Linked DNA regions of Homo sapiens. The protein of the gene in region 1 purifies or fractionates together with the protein of each later gene. This does not show direct contact. Each region holds a gene or a part of one and is shown in the gene's direction. Other genes may lie near its edges.

Region 1 (6,587 bases):
TTTAAAGATAGAATTTGTTTACATTCTCTGGACCTTTTAAAATTCAGAATAGTAATATGATTATAATAAACTTCAAAGTCAAGTTATAGAAATAGATGTGAGAAATTGATCTGTAAATATCTGAAAATGTCTTTAGTAAACGGGTATTGCTTTTGTAACTGTTTTCAACTGTGTTTGTTGGAGAGTGGAATTAATGAAGCCAAGATGTGCCTGGTTTGGTATTCATAAAGGTCAACTCACTTTGCATTGAGGCAAAAGTTCCATAGTGCCTGCCCCTTACAGATGCATGTATACAGAGATTCACAGAGCTGCCAAATGCAAATCTATCGCTGTTCCTGAAATGTCAATAACCCAACATTTGTACATATCTTACATAGAATAGCTAGTTATTACTCTAACATGCCAAGATTTAATGAACAAAATTTAATACCACAGCCAAGCAGTGATGATTCCATTGACAGACTCTCCAGGAGCTTATAATCTAGTAATTCAGTAAAGTGACGTATCTCAGATAGTTTTCACAAAATATAGTGAAGACACACAATACAGAATGGTTTATTTGCAAGGTGTTGAGAAATGGTTCACGCAAGTCAAATCACTTTTGAGCCGTGTTTTGAAAAATGAGTAGATATTTACTGGCAATTGGGTTTGGGAGAGGCGAACAGACCATTCCAGATGTTATTTCACTTTTATTCTTTAGATACTGATTTAACACCTCTGTACCAACTACTATGATACAGATGCTAGAGATATGCTAAATGAAACAGCACATCCATAAAATGTATAGTGTGATGGAGTGGAGCACATCGTAAACAAAAGTCTAGAGGAAACTGAAAGTAAGGGAAGAGGTACAGAAAATTGAGGCTACAGAAGGGGCAAGGCCCAAATCATGAGGTTTTCCATATGCAGTAAGGAGTTTGGAATCCATCTTAGCAATAGCACTTGAGGTGTAGTGGAAATAATCAAGATTAGAGACAGGGACTTGGAATAACTCAGGCAATAAATAATGAGAGCCTAAACTAAAATGATAGCATAAGGGTGTGAAAAGGTTGGGGGGGCAGGGGGTGGGACATGTTAATGATACTTAAAAGGACAGAACCAACTGGGCACAGTGGCTCACACCTGTACTTCCAGCTGCTCTGGAGGCTAAGGCAGGAGTATCACTTGAGTCTGGAGTTGGAAACCAGCCTAGGCAATGTAGTAAGACCGTATCTCTATAAAAAGGGTGGAACCAACAGGACTGGGTCATTGATTTAATATGGGGGTTGAAAGTAAAGTGAAATATGATGGGTGCTCAGGATTCTGATTTGGGTGGGTGACTACCTTTCACTGAGGTAAGTTATATAGGAAATGGTTTCTGGAAAACATTAGTAAGGTCAGTTTTTAAACACTGAATCCAAGGTTGTCTTCTGGAATATCCAAATTGGTTATGACCAGAATGTGATTCATTATACTAAGCTAAAGGAATAGATTAAAGAATTAGCAACAGTGGCCGGGTGCAGTGGCTCATGCCTGTAACCCCAGCACTTTGGGGGAGGCCCAGGTGGGTGGATCATTTGAGGTCAGGAGTTTGAGACCAGCCTGGCCAACATGGTGAAACCTAAAAATACAAAAATTAGCCAGGTGTGGTGGCAGGTGCTTGTAATCCCAGCTGCTTGGGAGGCTGAAGCAGGAGAATTGCTTGAACCCGGAGGCAGGGGTTGCAGTGAGCCAAGATCACACCATTGCACTCCAGCCTGGGTGGCAGAGTGAGACTCTGTCTCAAAAATTAAAAAGCAACAGTGTATATGCAATAGTTGCAAGATGTAAGATCACCCAAAGAGTATGCAGAGGGAAATGAGGGACAGAACCCAGAAATATTAATACCCAGGGAGTGAACAGGAGGAGGACCCCAAGAAGTTACTGAGTCAGATTTTTCCCACTCATCCAGGTGAAAGTTTAGGTCAATAATGTGAAATACCAGAGGGATTAAATGTCTACAGAAATAAAACCATGTCTCACATTAAGACAAACAAGTAGGTTGGAGGGATATTTTGAAAGGCAAGGTGATATTAAACTTTATTCTGAAAGTAGTTTGTTAGAGAAAGAGGCATGATAAGAGTTGCAGTTAACTGATTGGAAACTATGCAGCAGATGAAACTGGAATAAAGGAAACTCATCAGGAAATGATTATAGTAATAAGGGCCAGAAATAAGGGCTTGCTTGCCTGAACTAAAAACAAAGAGGATACAAAGGTTCTAGAAATATTTCAAAGGAATTAGCTTTAATTCAGCAATACTCATTGAGAATCACCTATGCACCTGGCTCTGAAGATGAAGTGCTGAGTAAACTTAGACATGGACCCTGCTATCATGGAGATGGCAGATTATTGGTCAGAATGCTCTTACCTGTCATTGTAGCAATTTTGTTAGATCCTTAATACCTCTGAATTGCTAATAAACTTGTTTTGGCTGAAAAAATAGTCCTGTGAATTTTACCATGCAGTTAAATAAGAAACTAAAAGCAAACCTAAATACCACCAAAAAGGTTAGTAGTCTGTTATATGCATTAGCCTTAATCTAAGGAAATATTTTATTATAGGTCTCCTTGAAGAAAATGATATTTTCAGGAATGCTCAAGCAGGTGTTCTCATCAGCACTAATAGTCATCCAATCTTAAGGAAAAACAGAATATTTGATGGATTTGCCGCAGGTTTGTATTTTCTTTTCTTACCTGTGGCTTATATATAGTTCTGCAAAGTGTTTGATGTGGAGTATATTCATTTTGTTTTGCTTATTAACTAAAATGTGCAAAGTGTGCTGAAGTGGCTGAATGCCTGTTCATTCACTTACAAGAGCACCTAATCAAGTTCTGGATTCTTCTACTCTAAGCCAGACTCCTAAGAAATATTGCTCTTATTGCTTAGTCGTGATTATGAAACATTTATTGGGATAGAATAAATGCAGGCTTGTATTACCACTAGGAATACAGATAGATTCAATTCCTCAGATGAATTTACCAGTTTAAATCTGCAACAGAAAAAGAGATGTTAAAATGGATGCAAATGAAATCCAAGTATCATGTATTTAAACTTTAAGACAGTTAGGTTGGTGCGAAAGTTAATTGCAGTTTTGACCATAGTCATTGATAAGTGAATGTTACTGTTGGTGGTTGAAATAGGTATCTACATTTTATTCAGTAGACATTAAGAGGGTTAATGTACTTCTATAAAAGAAGCAGTTTACATTTGCTTGCTAATTTCAGGTTTTTAAGAAGCAGTATAAAGTGATGTATCTACTTGTTTGTAAATTTTACTTCAGGTATTGAAATTACAAATCACGCAACTGCAACACTAGAAGGCAATCAGATTTTTAACAACCGGTTTGGAGGCTTATTTTTAGCATCTGGTGTTAATGTGACAATGAAAGGTATGTTGGAGTCTGCTATACCTATAAATATATGCAATATGCCATGAAAGATAATCAGAAGCCGTTTTATAACTTGATTCCTTATGTCACTCTCCAAGTTAGCAACAGTTTAAGATAGATTTTGAAAGAAACAGAGCTTTGGTTCTAAATGGTTGGAGTATCTTATACAAGGAAAATTCTATTCTTAGCTGATTTCTTACAATTACTTCATTGGTTAGCTTCATTTAAAGCTCTTAAAAATAGTGGCTCTTCTGTTAGAATAATCCTATAATCTTTGGTTTTTAAAATATTAACATTCCTCTGAATTTTTACTTATTCTTTCTTTTATTACAGATAACAAAATAATGAACAATCAAGATGCCATAGAAAAGGCTGTTAGTAGAGGCCAATGTTTATATAAAATATCAAGTTATACCAGCTATCCCATGCATGATTTCTACAGGTAACTTAGAAATATATTTGAGTCCTGAAAAGAGGAAGACTGATTTCCTTTTTAAATTAGCAATGCCTAGCATTTTTGGCTATTTGCCGGTGTTGAGACTATAACTAACTGAAAATTTTATCATCAATCTACTTGAAGATCGTGTTTAAGACTGTAACTGTGGGTAGGCGTGGTGGCTTATGCCTGTAATCCTAGCACTTTGGGAGGCTGAAGTGGGAGGATCACTGGAGCCCAGGAGTTCTAAACCAGCCTGGGCAACATAGGGAGACCCTGTCTCTACAAAACAAAACAAAGACCATAACTATGGAAAAACCTAATGCTACAGTAACTGATGTCATTCATGTAACTCATGTTGTGTAATGTTTTCCTAGAAATTTCAAGGTAAAGATGTCGGGGTTAAGTGTTTGATATATCCCAGTCACTGTGACAGTTTTGACTCTTCACGCCTCCAAAAATTGTTTTCAGCCCAGAAACATTTGAGAGGCTTTTAAAGTGGAAAGAACTGCCTTTATACAATTTACAAATCATTTCTCTTCCCTCCGAAGACACAGATGACAGGAAAATCACTTACTCCATTAAAGTTCCTTTTCAGAATTAATCTGGGCTGGAGCCACAAAGAATTTTGTTTTGGTCCTCTTAAAGCCAAAGGTCATAGTAATATATAAACAGAATGGAATGTTTTGCATTAATGACATGTTTGAGAAAAGTAATTTAAGCTTTTGCTTTTTAGATGTCATACTTGTAACACCACAGATCGAAATGCCATATGTGTGAACTGCATTAAGAAGTGCCATCAGGGACATGATGTAGAGTTTATTAGACATGATAGGTATGTAGCACACTTGCTTGATATATTACCCAATTACTTTCCCCCTCACTTTTCTAATATTTGGGTTTCATTTTGCTTTAGGTTTTTCTGTGACTGTGGTGCTGGAACACTGTCTAATCCTTGTACATTAGCTGGTGAGCCTACACATGATACAGATACACTATATGACTCTGCTCCACCTATAGAATCTAATACATTGCAGCACAACTGAATTCCTTCCCTAAAGAAAAAGTCCTGCCATTGTAACATCATAACTTAAAACACTTTTTTGGAAGAAGATTTAAAATATTTGCCCATGCTACAGGAAGAGACTGTATTAAAAATGGATACACAAGGTCAGTTGACACTATGAAGCTCAAGCTACCAAAAAGAAAGTGGCAATATATTGACTCAGGATCTCAAAGCTGGGTGTTTTAGCATTACTGTGTAAAGACTTGAAGGGACAGAAGTGAAGAAAATAAGCTGCAATTTTGTACAGATACCAACTTCTGAAAAGCTGGTGTTTTTACAACTAGCATTGAATGCAGTCCAATTTGCAGTAGTAATCTTCAATAGACAAGCAGCTTTGTTGCTGCCTTTATGGACATGGGTACCAATTGCTTTTGTAATATGGTAAAAATGTGAGCTAGCACTTCTGCGTTCCTTTTGATTTTTTTTTTTTAACATGTATTCAGATTGAGAAATATGATTTTAATGCTTTAATCTCATGTAGTTTGTTTTTAATTTCAAGCAAAATCTTACTGTACTTGAATGTGCCCTGTTTTGTTAGCACACCTAGACTTGCTGTAACTGTACTCATGTCCCAGTATGTACGTTCTTTCTATGAAAGAGAAAACACTAATCTTAAATTATATCCAGCAATGTTTCTGGTATCCTTTAAGAAAAGTTAAGACTATTATTTCCTTCCCTTCCCTGTGCAGCATTCAAAATCACCCCTAGAAAAAGTGAGTGTTTTAATGAGACTTCCTAGGAAGGGATGCACTGTAAAACAAAAGTATTCTTGTAACTCAGTTTTGTGAAAGGTAAAAAACTACTATGTTTTAAGTACACTTTAGAAAGTCTCTTCAAAACAAACAGTCCTGTATTTGAACTCTGTTCATAGTTTTTTTTTGAACAGTTTAGACAAAACTGCTGGAAATTAAACCAATTTCCTGCATTAAGCTGAGACAAGTATATATACAGCCCTATACAGTTTCATAGCTTTTCCTCCCCCATTTATGTGTATTGGTGACAGTGGGTATAAAACAGCCTGAAAGTGTATGCATGTACCATAACATCTAGACTTAATATATTGTGGAGTATTCAATAACCATTATGTAGAAGGTAGATAAGAATTAAAAGGGTTTAATTTCCTAGAAAGAAAATGGAAAAATGGTCATTTTTAAAAAATAAAGTTTATTAGATCATAATGTTGTCTGAATTTACCACCTTTGTCAGAAGTCAACTCAAAGCTTCCAATGTAGTCAGTCTATAATTCCTTAATCAAAGTCAGCAATTTATGGACAGCTTCAGCATCTACAGTTGACCTTTCACTAGCCAGGCAAACTTCCCTTAAAATTAAAAAAAAAAAAAAAAAAGTTTTTTTGTTTTTTCATAGTGCATCATCCCTTCCCCTTTTACTGTTTCTTTGAAACTTAAGGTCAGTTAGTTATAATTCCATTATAGTTAGTTAGTTACCGAAATAATCGTAGTGACTGATTCATCTTCTCAAATTCTCTTGCTTTTCTATGTCCCTTTTGAATAACTTCCTCTGGGAGATTAGCAAGCCTTGCTGCATTAAAGCCATAGCTTTTAGGACAAGCTCCCTTAATGAATTTATAGAGGAACGTAATAGTCTCCTGGCTGGGGTCTTCACATTCATTTTCTACCATGCATGCCTTAAGAAAGAAAAATATTAGCGATACATGTG
Region 2 (8,058 bases), on another chromosome or scaffold:
GTGGTAACACTACTCACAGACGTGCTGAATTCTGAGGCTCTTCCTCGCTTCTTGTGTTTTCTTTGGGTCACACCCTTTGGCAGCTTAGTGGCCCATCCTTGAGTGGATACTGAATGAGGTATCACCCGTTACGTGCTGAGGCAGGGCTGGCCAGGCTCCAGGGGTTCTTCTGTGCCTTATGCAGCCACACCATTGCCCACTGGGGTTCACAGATTTGGGGAACTCCAGATCTGCTCTATCTGCTTTTTTTTTTTTTTTTTTTTTTTTTGAGACGGAGTTTTGCTCTTGTTGCCCAGACTGGAATGCAGGGGCACAATCTCGGCTCACTGCAACCTCCGCCTCCCAGGTTCCAGCGATTCTCTTGCCTCAGCCTCCCACATAGCTGGGATTACAGGCGCCTGCCATCACACCTGGCTAATTTTGTATTTTTAGTAGAAACAGGGTTTCGCCCTGTTGGTCAGGCTGGTCTCAAACTCCTGACCTCAGGTGATCCGCTCGCCTTGGCCTCCCAAAGTGCTGGGATTAAAGGTGTGAGCCACTGCACCTGGCCCCAGATCTGCTCTTTCTAATACAGCACCCAGTACCCTCATAGGGATATTTACTTATTTTATTTTTATTTATTTATTTGTTTTTTGAGACAGAGTCTCAGTCAGTTGCCCAGGCTGGAGTGCAGTGGCGAGATCTCAGCTCACTGCAACCCCCGCCTCCCAGGTTCAAGCAATTCTCCTGCCCCAGCCTCTCAAGTAGCTGGGATTACGGGCACGTGCCACCACACCTGGCTAATTTTTTGTATTTTTATTAGAGACAGTTTCACCATGTTGGTCAGGCTGGTCTCAAACTCCTGAGTTCAGGTGATCCACACACTTCGGCCTCCCAAAGTGCTGGGATTACAGGCGTGAGCCACTGTGCCCAGCCAGTAGTGTCTCTTCTGCTGGAAGCTGGATGCTGAGCTTAGGCTTTTATGCTGTGTCTCCAGGGTCAGAGGAAAGGTCAGATGGCTTAGAGTATGGGCCATCAGCTTGCTTCTGGTTAGTCGGCCCAGTGATCCCCCAACACCCATCCCACTGCCAGTTTGCTAGGAGTATTTCAGATTTGTAAAGTGGGGTTGGGGTCAGGTGGGACCACTGAGGCAGGAGAGGAGTGCTATTCTTAGAAGGAGGAATCGACCCTAGAACTCTGCAGTGGAAGGGTGGCAGGACATGTTCCAGGGAGCACAGTTTGGGAACAGATACAAATACTCTACCCCTCTTCTAGGTTCACAGCAAGGCCACTGGTACAGACAATCTTTGAAGGTGGAAAAGCAACTTGTTTTGCATATGGCCAGACAGGAAGTGGCAAGACACATGTGAGTATTGAGGCCTGGCGGGGAAAGAGCCTTTCCCTTGTGCACCCCTGGCTCCCTATAAAGGGAGACAATGAGTTTGTTGAGAAAGGCCCCTTGTTACAGATGCCCCATCACCAGATAGCCTTGCCATGTCAGATGCAGGGAGGGGCTTTAGGTCCAGCCTTCTGGCTTTGTTGTGGCCCACTGTAGTGAAGGAGCCAGTAGTGCTCTGCTCTAGGCCAACAGCCCTTTTCCATGGTCTTCTACCCCTTCCCTTTGCAGACTATGGGCGGAGACCTCTCTGGGAAAGCCCAGAATGCATCCAAAGGGATCTATGCCATGGCCTGTAAGTACTGTGTACTGCTGCTTCAGGGTTGGGCACAGAAAGGCAGGTTGTTTGCTTAGCAAAGTTCTCTCCCTCAGCCCGGGACGTCTTCCTCCTGAAGAATCAACCCTGCTACCGGAAGTTGGGCCTGGAAGTCTATGTGACATTCTTCGAGATCTACAATGGGAAGGTAGCTGGCAGGAAGCCCCTTGTTTACACTGTTGGGGCCCAGCACTTTTTAAAACCTTGAAGCTGGCTAGAAGTTGAGGCCAAAAACCTATTAGCTGATTAGCTGTCAAGCCACTGATGGGCCATTCTGCCCTGGCATACACATGTAGGTGGTTTAATCTGATGGTGAGATGGCACCTAAGTTCAAGAAGTATGGCAAGAATACTCCTCAGGGCGCCCTTTCAGGTGCAAGGTTTGCCTGTGTGTGTCCTGACCTCCCTCGGCCGACCTCCTTCATCCCTTCTTCCCCGATTGTGCACGTTCAGTCTCATATTCATTCTTTCCCTGCCCGCACCACCATATATCTCTTCCACCCCTCTCTCTATTCACTGTGTGCTTCTGCAGAGTTGCTTTCCTTAGAGTGGGATCTAGATAATAAAAATAGCTAATATTTATCATTAATAAGATATTAGGGGCCAGGCGTGATGGCTCACACCTGTAATCCCAGCACTTTGGGAGGCCGAGGCGGGCAGGTCACCTGAGGTCAGGAGTTTGAGACCAGCCTGGCTAACATGGTGAAACCCCATCTCTACTAAAAACACAAAAAATTAGCTGGGCATGGTTAGGGGCACCTGTAATCCCAGCTACTCGGGAGTCTGAGGCAGGAGAATCGCTTGAATCCAGGAGGCAGAGGTTGCAGTGAGCCGTGATCGCACCATTGCACTCCAGCCTGGGCGATACGAGCGAAACTCCGTCTCAAAATAATAATAATAATAAGATATTAGGAGCTATGCACTATTCTAAGCACTACCTGTCTCACCTTTACAGATGAGATGCAAGGCTAGAGTGGTTATTAACTTGCCCAGGCTCACACAGCTAGTAAGTTACCAGAGTCACAGCAAACTGAGGCAGTTCGGCTCAGATCCCAAGTATATTGACCTCTGCTAGGCTGACATCCATCAGTTCGTATTCTCTGCCTTTCCTGCTGCTGGCTCTTGTCCGAGCTGGGCAGGCTAGTAGGAGGAAGCAGTCGGGTGGGGTGCCGGGTGCCCAGTGGCCTTAGCCTCATTCCCCCTGCCTGGCACAGCTGTTTGACCTGCTCAACAAGAAGGCCAAGCTGCGCGTGCTGGAGGACGGCAAGCAACAGGTGCAAGTGGTGGGGCTGCAGGAGCATCTGGTTAACTCTGCTGATGATGTCATCAAGATGATCGACATGGGCAGCGCCTGCAGGTGAGAGTCCTGGTGAGGGGAAGGAGCGACCTTCTCATGTCTGGTTTATGAGTAAAGTCTAGCTCTGAGCACATTTCTGTTTACCCAGAGTGCTGCTTTGCCCAGTTTGGTAAGGGCTGCGAAGGCCTCTGCTTTACGGGGTCTCAATAAGACATATGACCCCAGGGCCAGAGGCTTATCAGAACCAAGTCAGGTCAGGCACAGTGGCTCACACCTATAATCTCAGCAGTTTGGGAAAATGAAGCAGGAGGATCACTTCAGGCCAGGAGTTAGAGGTTGCAGTGAGCTGTGATCGCACCACTGCACTCCAGTCTGCATGGGCAGAGCAAGATCCTGTCTCAAAAAAATAAAAATAAAAACAAGTCAAAGTGTTACCCCAAAGGCATGCTTCCTGGCTTCTTTGGGTTCTCCTTGCTCTTCCCTCCCTTTGTGGTGGAAGTCGGGAGCTCTGGGTCTGTTCTGGGCTGGAAGTAATGGGTTCATACCCCCTCTGCACAGAATTAGGGGAGCACTTTTCCACTAGGGCTGTAGACATTGGTACAGTGGGGCGCTACGCAGCTATAGAGGCCCAGGGAGGGGGCTGCCCTCTACAGGGTCCTCAAGTTCTGGCAGGTGGTTCATGACAGCTTCCCCCTTCCCTTTGGGCCCTTTAGCAGAGGGAATTTATCCTTCCCCGTGTCCTTCTAGGGCTCCAGGTCTGACAAAGGCCCTAGTCCAGAATCCAGTACTAATTTGGCTGCCAGGAAAATGTATTAGGTCCAGAGCTGGAGGGAGAATTGCTACCCAGGGAGGGCAAGATGGAAGCCTGGGACAGGAAAACAGGACTTTTTCGCCTCCTAACCTGTGTCCCTCCCTTCCTAGAGAACTTCTGTGGACTTGGGTGCCATGGGGGCTGGTGACCACAGAATCTCATAACCTTTCTTTACCACAGAACCTCTGGGCAGACATTTGCCAACTCCAATTCCTCCCGCTCCCACGCGTGCTTCCAAATTATTCTTCGAGCTAAAGGGAGAATGCATGGCAAGTTCTCTTTGGTAGATCTGGCAGGGAATGAGCGAGGCGCGGACACTTCCAGTGCTGACCGGCAGACCCGCATGGAGGGCGCAGAAATCAACAAGAGTCTCTTAGCCCTGAAGGTAGTGGGGCAGCTAGAGCTGGTTGGCCGGGAGAGCTACTGGGAAGGGATGGGGAGGGATCAGTGCAAGGAAAGAAGGGACCTCAGTTGTTCCTGCTGCCCCCACAGGAGTGCATCAGGGCCCTGGGACAGAACAAGGCTCACACCCCGTTCCGTGAGAGCAAGCTGACACAGGTGCTGAGGGACTCCTTCATTGGGGAGAACTCTAGGACTTGCATGGTGAGTAGGGTCACTTTGAAGGTGATGGTACAGGAGGAGACAGAGTTGCTTTCCACAGAGACACTTAGTCCTGTCCCTGGGCTGGAAGCTCAGCACTGCTGGCTGCCTGGGTTTCCAGGCTGTACCGTGACTGGGCTTCCAGACCCTGCTTTAATGCACGAGACTCCTTGTGGCCTAACCAAGCGTGGAGGAAAGGATCTATTCCCTTTAAGATGTGTAGGTGCAGCTCTTGGTTTGGGAGAGGTCATTCCTGCATTACCTGATGAAAAGGGGGTTCCAGAATTCGGAAGATGGGCCTTTGGGTCAGCAGGAGAGGGAAGTCCTTGTCTTTTCCATGGCCTCCCTCAGGTTCACTGGCTCCCAGCCTAGAAAATAGAAATAGCCTGGATCATAAGGCTGTGTCCTTGAATGACGTCCTCTTTCCTGTTTTATCCCCAAGCCCCTGTATGTGAGATCTGCCATCCTTCCCCTCAAGAGAATATTCTCCCCTACCCTTTGGGTAGGAGTCCTTTCATGAGGAAGGTGGGATTTTCTGACTAAGCTCTACCTAAGGCATTATCCTTTGGCCTAAGGGAACTGAAGTTTCCAGCAGAAGCCACAGAGCTTTAAGATAGGACCTTGGGCTGGGCGCGGTGGCTCACGCCTGTAATCCCAGCACTTTGGGAGGCCGAGAGGCAGGTGGATCACAAGGTCAGGAGATAGAGACCATCCTGGCTAACATGGTGAAACCCCATCTCTATTAAAAAATAAAAAAAATTAGCCAGGTGTGGTGGCAGGTGCCTGTAGTCCCAGCTACTCGGGAGGCTAAGGCAGGAGAATGGCGTGAACCTGGGAGGCAGAGCTTGCAGTGAGCTGAGATCGCACCACTGCACTCTGGTCTGGGCGACAGAGTGAGACTCCGTCTCAAAAAAAAAAAAGAAAAAAGAAAAAGATAGGACCTTGGTAGCAAGACTGTCTCAGTGAAGGAATAATGAAGCAAAAGATAATTAGATGTGTCTTTGAAAGCAGGAAACCAATGTCTGAGGCACCTTAATTTGCAGTGCCCATGGGGCAAGTGGCCTAGCACAGCGCGGTGCTAAATGACTCCTCCCACCAATACCATGTGGGTCTCCAAAGCTTGAAGAAACACCCTGACTGGAGGCCCCTCAGGGACAGGCTATATAGCATCCTCACCGTGCCTCTCAGCCTTTAATCACCCACCCCTCTTTTGCAGATTGCCACGATCTCACCAGGCATAAGCTCCTGTGAATATACTTTAAACACCCTGAGATATGCAGACAGGTACTAGTACCTACAGCTAGGTGGGATGCGGAACAGGACTGGGCAAGGGAAGGGCAGTGATGAGAGGGGAGGAGGCTCTGGGGCCTCAGGGCCTACTGTATACTCCTCTGTGACTCTGAACCTGAGGCTTGGGAGTTCCGCCGTGATGCTAGGTCTGTCCCAATCCTCTCCGGGCCCTGCTGGAGAGTCAGCTGGGTGAGGGGCTTTTCCAGTCCAGCTTTAGTTTTCTCTCTCCTTGGCTGAAGGCAAGGTTGCCATTCCATCCCCTTGGAGCCTCAAGCCTCGAAGCCTGGGCGGTGCCACATTCCTCTGGTGAGTACCAAGGGGGTGCTGTGGGATCTGAGACCTCCTTGTTTCCTCAGGGTCAAGGAGCTGAGCCCCCACAGTGGGCCCAGTGGAGAGCAGTTGATTCAAATGGAAACAGAAGAGATGGAAGCCTGCTCTAACGGGGCGCTGATTCCAGGCAATGTAAGGACCAGGATGCGGCCAAGCAAGACAGAAGTGTGGCCTGCTGAGGCGGCACCTGGGTCACATAATTGTCTTTCTTTTTGGCCCTCTCAGTTATCCAAGGAAGAGGAGGAACTGTCTTCCCAGATGTCCAGCTTTAACGAAGCCATGACTCAGATCAGGGAGCTGGAGGAGAAGGCTATGGAAGAGCTCAAGGAGATCATACAGGTAGGCAGCTGGCCCTGGACAGGGAGCTGGATGCAGCACGGCCCTCAGTATGCTCCACACCATTCCCAGAACATGACCTGGGCCTTGTTCCCACAGGTATTCACATAGCAAGAAGCAGCCCTCTACACCAGCACTCTTTAATTCTTTGCCTGTTAACCCAGCTGTTCTTCTAATTATCACAACCCCTTCTGCAGGTTGGCACACATAGGCTTTCTGACATCACACTAGCCAGAGCTAGTCTCTCCTCCACGCTCCTGATAGAGGATTTGAAGGGTGATCCATATGCAGGGATCTTGTCTTGTGTTTTGGTGAATGTTGCAACTCTTGTGCTGAATCCAAGGGCCAAAAAACATGAAGTATAGGTAATAGGCCCTAAGGGTATGACTTGAGATCAATCCTGTCTCTTCCATTCACAAACTGATTTCCTTGTGAAATTCATTTAGCCTCACTGGGCCTCAGTTTTTGCATCTCTGAAATGGTCAAGGTAGGATGGTTGTATTTGAGCGTTCAGTAATATGCTTATAAAGTGTCAGCACAGTACCCAGTGTGTGGTCAGGGTTCAGTAACTGGTAGGTGCCCCTGCTACTGTAATCCCTACTGTGGAAGAGCAAGTGACTGGGAGGCAGGAATTTACGTCCCAATGGTGGGGCGCTCAGAGGATTGCAGAGCAGGAAGGAAGAACTTGGGGCAGGTGTAACTGAGGAGGGACTGTGAAGGGTAAGTGCTCAGGCCTCTCCTCCCCTTCCTGGAGTGCTCAGGGGTACAGAGTTTTGTAAGCACATGGCACTTTCAGGATGAATGAGAGGCTCACCGTGGTCAGAGCAAAAGGAGTGAACAGGTGATGGAGGGTAGTTAAGGCTGTGGACAGGTCAACAGGGATCTGATGCTAGAGTCTTCTAGATGGTTCATCTCACAGGCCTGGACTGCATCATGAGGAAGCCTTTGGAGGGTGTTAAGCAGAGTGGTGACATGGGCATGTCAGAGCTTTAGATATATCATATGGCCACCATGTGGAGCCTGGTTTGGGGGCTTGAGAAAAGCAAAGGTAGAGGCAGTTAGGAGATTGTTGGAAAGGGTTCAAGAAAAACTATTGCCAGCCAGGCGCGGTGGCTCATGCCTGTAATCCCAACACGTTGGGAGGCCGAGGCGGGTGGATCATGAGGTCAGGAGTTCGAGACCAGCCTGGCCAACGTGGCGAAACCCCATGTCTACTAAATACAAAAAATTAGCCGAGTATGGTGGCGGGCGCCTGTAATCTCAGCTACTTGGGAGGCTGAGGCAGGAGAATTACTTGAACCAGGGAGGCAAAGGTTGTAGTGAGTCAAGATCGTGCCACTGCACTCTAGCCTGGGTGACAGAGCAAGACTCCATCTCAGAAAAAAAAAAAGAGAAACTAGTGCCTAGACCAAACTGTGTCCGTGTTCATGGGATTGGAATGAGGACATGAGATTCATGAACCATTTAGATATACAAGCATGAAAATCTTACAAGGTACCCCCCAAAATATGTACTCTCTCTCTATATATATATGTTTTTGAGACAGAGTCTCACTCGTCACCCAGGCTGGAGTTTAGTGGTGCAATCTTGGCTCACTGCAGCCTCCGCCTCCTGGGTTCAAGCGATTCTCCTTCCTCAGCCTCCTGCGTACCTGGGATTACAGGTGCGTGCCACCATGCCTGGCTAATTTTTTGTATTTTTAGT
Region 3 (8,058 bases), on another chromosome or scaffold:
TTCAAGCGATTCTTGTGCCTCAGCTTCCTGAGTAGCTGGGACTACAGACACCAGCCACCACGCCTGGATAATTTTTATATTTTTAGTAGAGGCAAGGTTTCACCATGTTGGTCAGGCTGGTCTCAAAGTCCTGACCTCAGGTGATCTGCCTGCCTCGGACTCCCAAAGTGCTGGGATTACTGATGTGAGCCACCGCGTCCTGCCCAGAGTAGTCATTTTGAAAGAATAGACCATAGATATTTCATTCAGGGTAATGGGGAATGAACAAAATAATCGGAAGAAGAAAGAAAAGTGAATATGTTGGCCTTTAAATTTTTGTATTAAGGCACCTCCCCACTTCCAAGGGATTGCAGCTCTGTAAGCTCTAATGTAAGCCTGAGAAAAGAAATTTTACTGTTTGCTGGTTTTCTTTAAATCATGGAGGTGGATTTTTTTTTTTTTTTTCTGAGATGGAGTCTCAGGCTGTCGCCCAGGCTGGAGTGCAGTGGCGCGATCTCAGCTCACTGCAAGCTCTGCCTACCGGGTTCATGCCATTCTCCTGCCTCAGCCTCCCAGGTAGCTGGGACTACAGGTGCTGCCACCATGCCTGGCTAATTTTTGTATTTTTAGTAGAAACGGGGTTTCACCATGTTGGTCAGGCTGGCCTCGAACCTCCTGACCTTAAGTGATCTGCCCGCCTTGGCCCCCCAGAGTGCTAGGATTATTGGCGTGAGCCACCGCGCCTGGCCATCTTACATTTTTTAAAAGACAAAAAATTATTTCCCAGCACTATGTTGTGCTTTTGTGAGCATTTGGTTTCATATGGGGACTAATCATTCTTAGTACATGCTGCCATATAGGTTTGATTATTCATCATTTTGTATGAGGTAATAAAAGGGAAAGTCTGTAAGTGAAGTTCTTGTTTTGCTGAGGTTCTTTTACCTTTTACTGTGTGATCCTAGGTTGTTTTATTTCTCTTCATTCTTCTTCCTTCTTTCTTCTTCCTTCTTTTTTTTTGAAACAAGGTCTTGCTGCATTGCCCAGGCTGGACTTGAACTCCTGGACTTGAGTGATCCTCCTGCCTCAGCCTTACCAAGTAGCTAGGACTATAGGTCGGCACCACCACACCTGGCATTGTTTCTTTTTCTGTTCTTCTTTCTGAGAGGGAGTCTTACTTGTCTCCCAGGCTGGAGTGCAGTGGTGTAATCTTGGCTCACTGAAACCTCTGCCTCCCGGGTTCCAGCGATTCTCCTGCCTCAGTCTCCCTCCTGGGCTGGGACTACAGGCGGGTGCCACGATGGCTGGCTAATTTTTGTATTTTTTTGTAGAGACGGGGTTTCACCATATTGGCCAGGCTGGTCTTGAACTCCTGACCTCGTGATCTGCCCACCTCGGCCTCCCATAGTGCTGGGATTACAAGTGTGAGCCACCGCGCCCGGCCAAAAAAAAAATTTCATGTCTGACGATATCAAATGTTGGTGAAGATGTGGCAAAAATGGTAATTTTGAAACTACTGGCCAGGCGTGGTAGCTCATGCCTATAATTTTAGCACTTTTGGAGTTTGAGGGCCACTTGAGTCCTTGAACCCGGGAGTTCAAGACCAGCCTGGGCCTCAAAGTGAGACCCCTGTCTCTATTAAAAAAGAAAAAATTTATAAAAAAAAAAAAAAAAAGAAACTGCTACCGGTTACTGTTAGGAGGAGGAAAAAAAAACTGTTGGTTGAGTGTAAACTGGTATAGCTGCTTTTGAAGACAGTATTTGCAGCCCTTAGTAAAGTTGAAGATAGGCGTACTCTATAATTTCACGTCTATAAGGGATTATGAATGGGAGGTAGTGGCAAAGGGGATGATATCTATAATTTTTTTTTTTTTTTTGAGGTGGAGTTTTGCTCTTGTTGCCCAGGCTGGAGTGCAAATGCGCGATCTCGGCTCACTGCAATCTCCGTCTCCCGGGTTCCAGCATTTCTCCTGCCTCAGCTTCCCGAGCAGCTGGGATTATAGGCATGCACCACTATGCCCGGCTAATTTTTATTTTATTTTATTTTATTTTATTTTTTTTTTTTTAGACGGAGTCTCGCTCTGTCGCCCAGGCTGGAGTGCAGTGGCGTGATCTTGGCTCACTGCAAGCTCTGCCTCCCGAGTTCACGCCATTCTCCTGCCTCAGCCTCCCAAGTAGCTGGGACTACAGGCGCCCGCCACCATGCCCAGCTAATTTTTTGTATTTTCAGTAGAGACGGGGTTTCACCATGTTATCCAGGATGGTCTTGATCTCCTGACCTTGTGATCCACCTGCCTCGGCCTCCCAAAGTGCTGGGATTACAGGCGTGAGCCACCGCGCGCAGCCCGTTATCTATAATTTCTTTTGAGGATATCTATACTTTTTTTTTGAGACTAGACACTACTGTGACAACAGCTAATTCTGGGAGGCAGAATATACGTGCTAAATTATTATTTGTATCTTTCCCTATTTTCTGCTGTTCGTTTTGTTTTTTTCTTTTTGTTTGTTTTTTGAGACAGAGTCTTGCTCTGTGGTCCAGGCTGGAGTGCAGTGGCGCCATCTCAAGTCACTGCAACTTCCCCCTCCTGGGTTCAAGAGATTCTCCTGCCTCAGCCTCCTGAGTAACTGGTACTATGGGCACGTGCCACCACACCTGGCTAATTTTTTGTATTTTTAGTGGAGATGGGGTTTCACCATGTTGGCAAGCCTGGTCTTGAACTCCTGTGATCCGCCTGCCTCGGCCTCCCCAAAGGGCTGGGATTACAGGCATGAGCCACTGTACCCGGCAGGCTTTGTTTTTTTGTAATCCATAACTTCTAAATATTGTTTTTGCAACTCTTTGAAAAATTGTAAGCCTACAGAAGGGTTGTTCAGTAAACATTCATATACCCTTCACCTAGATTTGCTGTTAACATTTTGCCATGTTTACTTTACACATAGAAGATGCACATTTTACTTTGGGAATCCGAGACGGTCAGATTACTTGAGCCTAGGAATTTGAATTTTGAGGCAAGGTCTTGCTCTGTTGTCTAGGTTGGAGTTCAGTTGCGCTATCAGGGATCATTGCAGTCTCGACCTCCTGGGCTCAAGCTGTCCTCCCACTTCAGTCTCCTGAGTAGGTTGGGATGTGCTACCACACCCGGTTAATTAATTTTAGTTTTTTATTTTTTGAGATGGAGTTTCACTCTTGTTGCCCAGGCTGGAGTACAATGGCACAATCTCAGCTCATCGCAGTTTCTGCCTTCTGATTCTCCTGCCTCAGCCTCGCGAGTAGCTGGGATTACAGGCATGTGCCACCATGCCCAGCTAATTTTGTATTTTTAGTAGAGACGGGGTTTCACCATGTTGATCAGGCTGGTCTTGAACTCCTGACCTCAGGTGAACTGCCCGCTTCGGCCTCCCAAAGTGCTGGGATTACAGGGGTGAGCTACCATGCCTGACCAATTAAAAAAAGAATTTTTTTTTTATTGGGAAGACAGGATCTCCCTATGTTCCTCAGGCTGGTCTCAAACTCCTGGGCTCAAGCAATCCTCCCACCTTGACCTCCCAAAGCTTTGGGATTACAGGCGTGAGCCACTATGCCTAGCTGCTAGAATTTAAAATAAACTTTATTCGGCCAGGCACAGTGGCTCACACCTGTGATCCCTGCATTTTGGGAGACCGAGGCGGGTGGATCACCTGAGGTCAGGAGTTTGAGACCAGCCTGGCCGACATGATGAAATCCCATCTCTACTAAAAATACAAAAAATTAGCTGGGCGTGGTGGCTCGCGCCTGTAATCCCAGCTACTCAGGAGGCTGAGGCAGGAGAATCGCTTGAACCCAGGAGGCTGGGGTTGTAGTGAGCCGAGATCACGCCACTGCACTCCAGCTTGAGCAACAAGAACAAAACTCTGTCTCAAAAAAAAACAACAACAAACAAACAAACAACCCCCCCCCCCAAAAAAAAACCAAGAACTTTATTCTACTGGTGCTTTCTTAGCCACCGTCACAATGTTGTCACTTCTCACTTTACGCAGCTGGCTCCACTGAGGGTTTGTGAGCTGGTCTCCAGTGATGGCACATAGTTCTTATTACCTTACATGGTAACACTACCTGATCATGGCGTTCTGGAAATTGTGACAATATGTACTGATCTTTTGTTGGTGCAACTAACAATACAAAAGTTGCTGCTCTGTAAATGTATGCTTCAGTTTCATTAGTTTATTTGGAATAATTACCCCTAACATTGTTTTTTTTTTTTTTTTTTTTTCGAGACAAGGTCTTGGTCTGTCATGCAGGCTGGAGTGCAGTAACGCTATCACAGCTCACTGCAGCCTCCACCTCCCTGTCTCAAGAGATTCCCCTGCCTCAGCCTTCTGAGTAGCTGGGACCACAGGCACATGACACCATGCTTGGCTAACTTGTATTTTGTATTTTATTTTTGTTTGACCAGACGAGTTTTAAATACAAGTTTTGTAGTTTTTGTAGAGGTGCCCACACTGGTCTCAAACTCCTGAGTTCAAGTAGTTCATCTGCCTCGGCCTCCCAAAGTACTGGGATTACAGGCATGAACCACTGCGCCCAGCTACTTGTAATGTTTGTAGGTAGTTTAATAGCGAAAGTAGGTACATTCCAGTGATAAGACATTCAGTTTATTATTTTTTCCTTTTTCCTTTTTTTTTTCTTTAGGGGTAAGTGTACTGGAGAGAGTTGGTTATACATTCTAGGAATCTCAAAGGTAAAGTATGATTTAAAAATATTTTTTTAAAATAATTTTTTTAAGTTTGCCTACAGCTACAAATTTTTAAGTTTTATGTAAGTGGAATCCTTTTTTTTTGAGACATATTCTCACTCTGTCATCAGAGTGCAGTGGTGCCATCATAGCTCACTGAAGCCTCAAACTCCTGGCCTGAACAGGGCGATCCTCCTGCCTCAGCCTCCTGAGTAGCTGGGAATACAGGAGCATGCTACTTTGCCCAGCTGAGTCCTTCTTATTTGCTTTGGACAGACTAGTACTTGAAAAAATAATTTTCAAATGTTTAGTTGAGTGTTTTTTTTTCCTTCAACTTTTGGGAGGCTGTTTTTTTGTCATACATATTTCCTTCTCTGGAGTTAATTTTCTGTTAAGCAAGAAGGATTTCAGTTATGTATTTTTTACACTTGAACTACCTAAACTTGTGCTTGCATAGAATTATTTTCAACTTTAACTCCTTAAGTAATCGTTTTCAGGATATTTTAGTTTTTGTTCTTGTTTTTTTTTTGAGTTGGAGTCTCGTTCTGTCGCCCAGGCTGGAGTGCAGCCTCCCGAGTAGCTGGGATTACAGGTGCTACCATGCCCTGCTCATTTTTTATATTTTTAGTAGAGACAAGGTTTCACCATGTTGGCTAGGCTGGTCTTGAACTCGTGACCTCTGGTGATCCACCCGCTGTGCTGGGATTACAGGCATGAGCTACCATGCCTGGCTTTTTTTTTTTTTTTTTTTTTTTTGGAGGCAGAGTCTCACTCTGTTGCCCAGGCTGGAGTACAGTGGCATGATCTCTGCTTACTGCAACCTCTGCCTTCCAGGTTCAAGTGATTCTCCTGCCTCAGCCTCCCTGGTAGCTGGGATTACAGGTGGCTGCCACCATGTCCAGCTAATTTTTTTTATTTTTAGTAGAGACGGGGTTTTACCATGTTGGCCAGGCTGGTCTTGAACTCCTACTCTCAAGTGATCTGCCCGCCTTGGCCTCTGGAAGTGCTGGGATAGGTGCAAGCCACCATGCTTGGGCAGATGTTTTAATTTGTAAAGGAACTAGGACCAATAATTTTTTTTACTGTATACACATTTTAGAATAAGTTTTAGGCACCTAGCTGTTTGATTTCTGGTAACTAAGATTATAGTCAGTTAAACTTTACTGCTGGCCAGGCATGGTGGCTCATGCCTGTAATCCTAGCACTTTGGGAGGCCGAGGTGGGCGAATCACTTGAGGTCAGGAGTTTGAGTCCAGCCTGGCCAACATGGAGAAACCCCGTCTCTACTAAAAATACAAAAATTAGCTGGGTGTGGTGGCGCACACCTGTAGTCCCAGCTACTTGGGAGGCTGAGGCAGGAGAATTGCTTGAACCTGGGAGGCAGAGTTTGCAGTGAGCTGAGATTGTGCCCCTGCACTCCAGCCTGGGTGACAGAGCTAGAGTCTGTCTCAAAAAAACAAAAACAAAAGAATCTTTCCTTCTTTATGCTTACCTATATTTTCTAACTTTTCTGGATATGTTTCAATATGTATTATGATTTTGTAAAAAATTTCAGAAGGGTGGTTATTTTTTGTTTCAAAGCTGAAACCCAGTTTAAAACTCTAATACAGTGGTCAGAGGAAGTGGTGAATATCTTGATACTTCAGTTTCTAATATTTAATATATATATAAGTGAATGGTTGAGGCCGGGCGCAGTGGCTCACGCCTGTAATCCCAGCACTTTGGGAGGCTGAGGCGGGTGGATCACCTGAGGTCAGGAGTTTGAGACCAGCGTGACCAACATGGAGAAACCCCGTTTCTGGTAAAAGTACAAAATTAGCCAGGTGTAGTGGCACATGCCTGTAATCCCAGCTACTCAGGAGGCTGAGGCAGGAGAATCGCTTGAACCTGGGAGTGGGAGGCAGAGGTTGCGATGAGCCGAGATCGTGCCATTGCACTCCAGCCTGGGCAACAAGAGCGAAACTCCATCTCAAAAAATAAAAAAGAATGGTTGAGTGAAGGACTTAACAGACTACATAGGGGTTTCTATAAATTTTTTTTTTTGAGTTTGAAGATGAACCAGATACCTGATAAATGCTTGTGTCTGAAAGAAAAGTATAAAAGTATAATTTAATTCTAATACTCTTTGTGTGTGTGTGTGGCCAAAATTATGTTTTTGTATACCTTTTTTTGTAAGCCATTTAAAAAATACAGGCTTTAAACATACTCTTGGAAGTGTATAAACAGATACTGTGTCTGCTTGTTAATCTAAGATGTCTGTCCGAAAAGGTGCTTGCTTGGTCTTGCTCCCTTATAATGCCGGTACACCCACGCTGGAGACTAGTAGAAAGCATGTTGTCAGACGTGTTTAGTTCTTTTTTTTTTCCTTACCAACTTATGTGTTGTTATTTATTTTCTGTGAATCTTTGGAAGGATTAAACCCACGTGGTTTTTCTATCAGAAAAAAGACAAAACAAAATTAGTCAAGGCATATTAGTCTTTTTCCTTTTTCCTAGGATCAGAGTGTAGTAATATCCTGCCAATCTTAATTTTAACAAATACTTATATTTTTCGGACTTAGATTAACTTATTTTTTTATTTTTTATTTTTTGAGACAGACTCTTGCTCTCTTGCCCAGGCTGGAGTCCAGTGACCTGATCTTGGCTCACTGCAACCTCTGCCTCCCGGGTTCAAGCGATTCTCCTGCCTCAGCCTCCCGAGTAGCTGGGATTACAGGCACCCACCACCACACCTGGCTAATTTTTGTATTTTTAGTAGAGACGTTGTTTCACCGTGTTAGCCGTGCTAGTCTTGAACTCCTGACCTCAAGTGATCCACCTGCCTCGAGTGCTGGGCTTACCCACCGCACCTGGCCCTCCTTTCACTTTCTAATGCAGAATTCTAATCTATCCCTTTGTTTTACTTGTGTTATTTATATTTACTTACTTCCATTATCTTGGCTACTTTACAAAAATGCATTAGGTCTAAAAGTTATAACATTTAAGGCTGAATTGCCAAATGTTTAAAAATATAGATTTCTGTACCAGAAAAACTTTGGAAAAACTACATTAATTCTTTTTTTTTGAGATGGAGTTTCACTCTGTCTCCCAGGCTGAAGTGCAGTGGCATGATCTCGGCTCACTTCAACCTCTGCTGCCTGAGTTCAAGCGATTCTCCTGCCTCAGCCACCTGAGTAGCTGGGATTACAGGCGCCTGCCACCCTGCCTGGCTAATTTCTGTATTTTTAATAGAGAAGGGGTTTCACCATCTTGGCCAGGCTGGTCTTGAACTCCTGACCTCGTGATCCACCCGCCTCGGCCTCCCAAAGTGCTGGGATTACAGGCGTGAACCTCCGCGCCCAGCCAAAAATACATTAATTCTTTATGCAGAG

Evidence for each region.
Region 2: the proteins of FBXO11 (region 1) and KIF2C purify together in Homo sapiens (co-immunoprecipitation; 2 studies listed by BioGRID and IntAct, with this or other methods). This does not show direct contact.
Region 3: the proteins of FBXO11 (region 1) and GAPVD1 purify together in Homo sapiens (co-immunoprecipitation; 2 studies listed by BioGRID and IntAct, with this or other methods). This does not show direct contact.

Annotation. Positions count from the first base shown.
Region 1 is NC_000002.12:47,806,420-47,813,006, reverse strand, and holds the end of FBXO11 (F-box only protein 11), read left to right. Parts: intron 1-2,580; coding exon 2,581-2,691; intron 2,692-2,905; exon of another isoform or gene 2,906-3,008; intron 3,009-3,299; coding exon 3,300-3,407; intron 3,408-3,740; coding exon 3,741-3,849; intron 3,850-4,420; exon of another isoform or gene 4,421-4,484; intron 4,485-4,579; coding exon 4,580-4,678; coding exon of another isoform or gene 4,679-4,759; coding exon 4,760-4,889; 3' UTR 4,890-6,087; downstream 6,088-6,587. Other genes in the region: DNA mismatch repair protein Msh6, read right to left, coding at 6,147-6,228, 6,356-6,555. UniProt on the Homo sapiens protein: Substrate recognition component of a SCF (SKP1-CUL1-F-box protein) E3 ubiquitin-protein ligase complex which mediates the ubiquitination and subsequent proteasomal degradation of target proteins, such as DTL/CDT2, BCL6, SNAI1 and PRDM1/BLIMP1.
Region 2 is NC_000001.11:44,756,302-44,764,359, forward strand, and holds part of KIF2C (kinesin-like protein KIF2C), read left to right. Parts: intron 1-1,254; coding exon 1,255-1,345; intron 1,346-1,606; coding exon 1,607-1,670; intron 1,671-1,747; coding exon 1,748-1,839; intron 1,840-2,904; coding exon 2,905-3,047; intron 3,048-3,978; coding exon 3,979-4,183; intron 4,184-4,290; coding exon 4,291-4,401; intron 4,402-5,614; coding exon 5,615-5,682; intron 5,683-5,733; exon of another isoform or gene 5,734-5,806; intron 5,807-6,044; coding exon 6,045-6,150; intron 6,151-6,243; coding exon 6,244-6,357; intron 6,358-8,058. UniProt on the Homo sapiens protein: In complex with KIF18B, constitutes the major microtubule plus-end depolymerizing activity in mitotic cells. Regulates the turnover of microtubules at the kinetochore and functions in chromosome segregation during mitosis.
Region 3 is NC_000009.12:125,264,291-125,272,348, forward strand, and holds part of GAPVD1 (GTPase-activating protein and VPS9 domain-containing protein 1), read left to right. Parts: intron 1-4,645; 5' UTR 4,646-4,694; intron 4,695-8,058. UniProt on the Homo sapiens protein: Acts both as a GTPase-activating protein (GAP) and a guanine nucleotide exchange factor (GEF), and participates in various processes such as endocytosis, insulin receptor internalization or LC2A4/GLUT4 trafficking.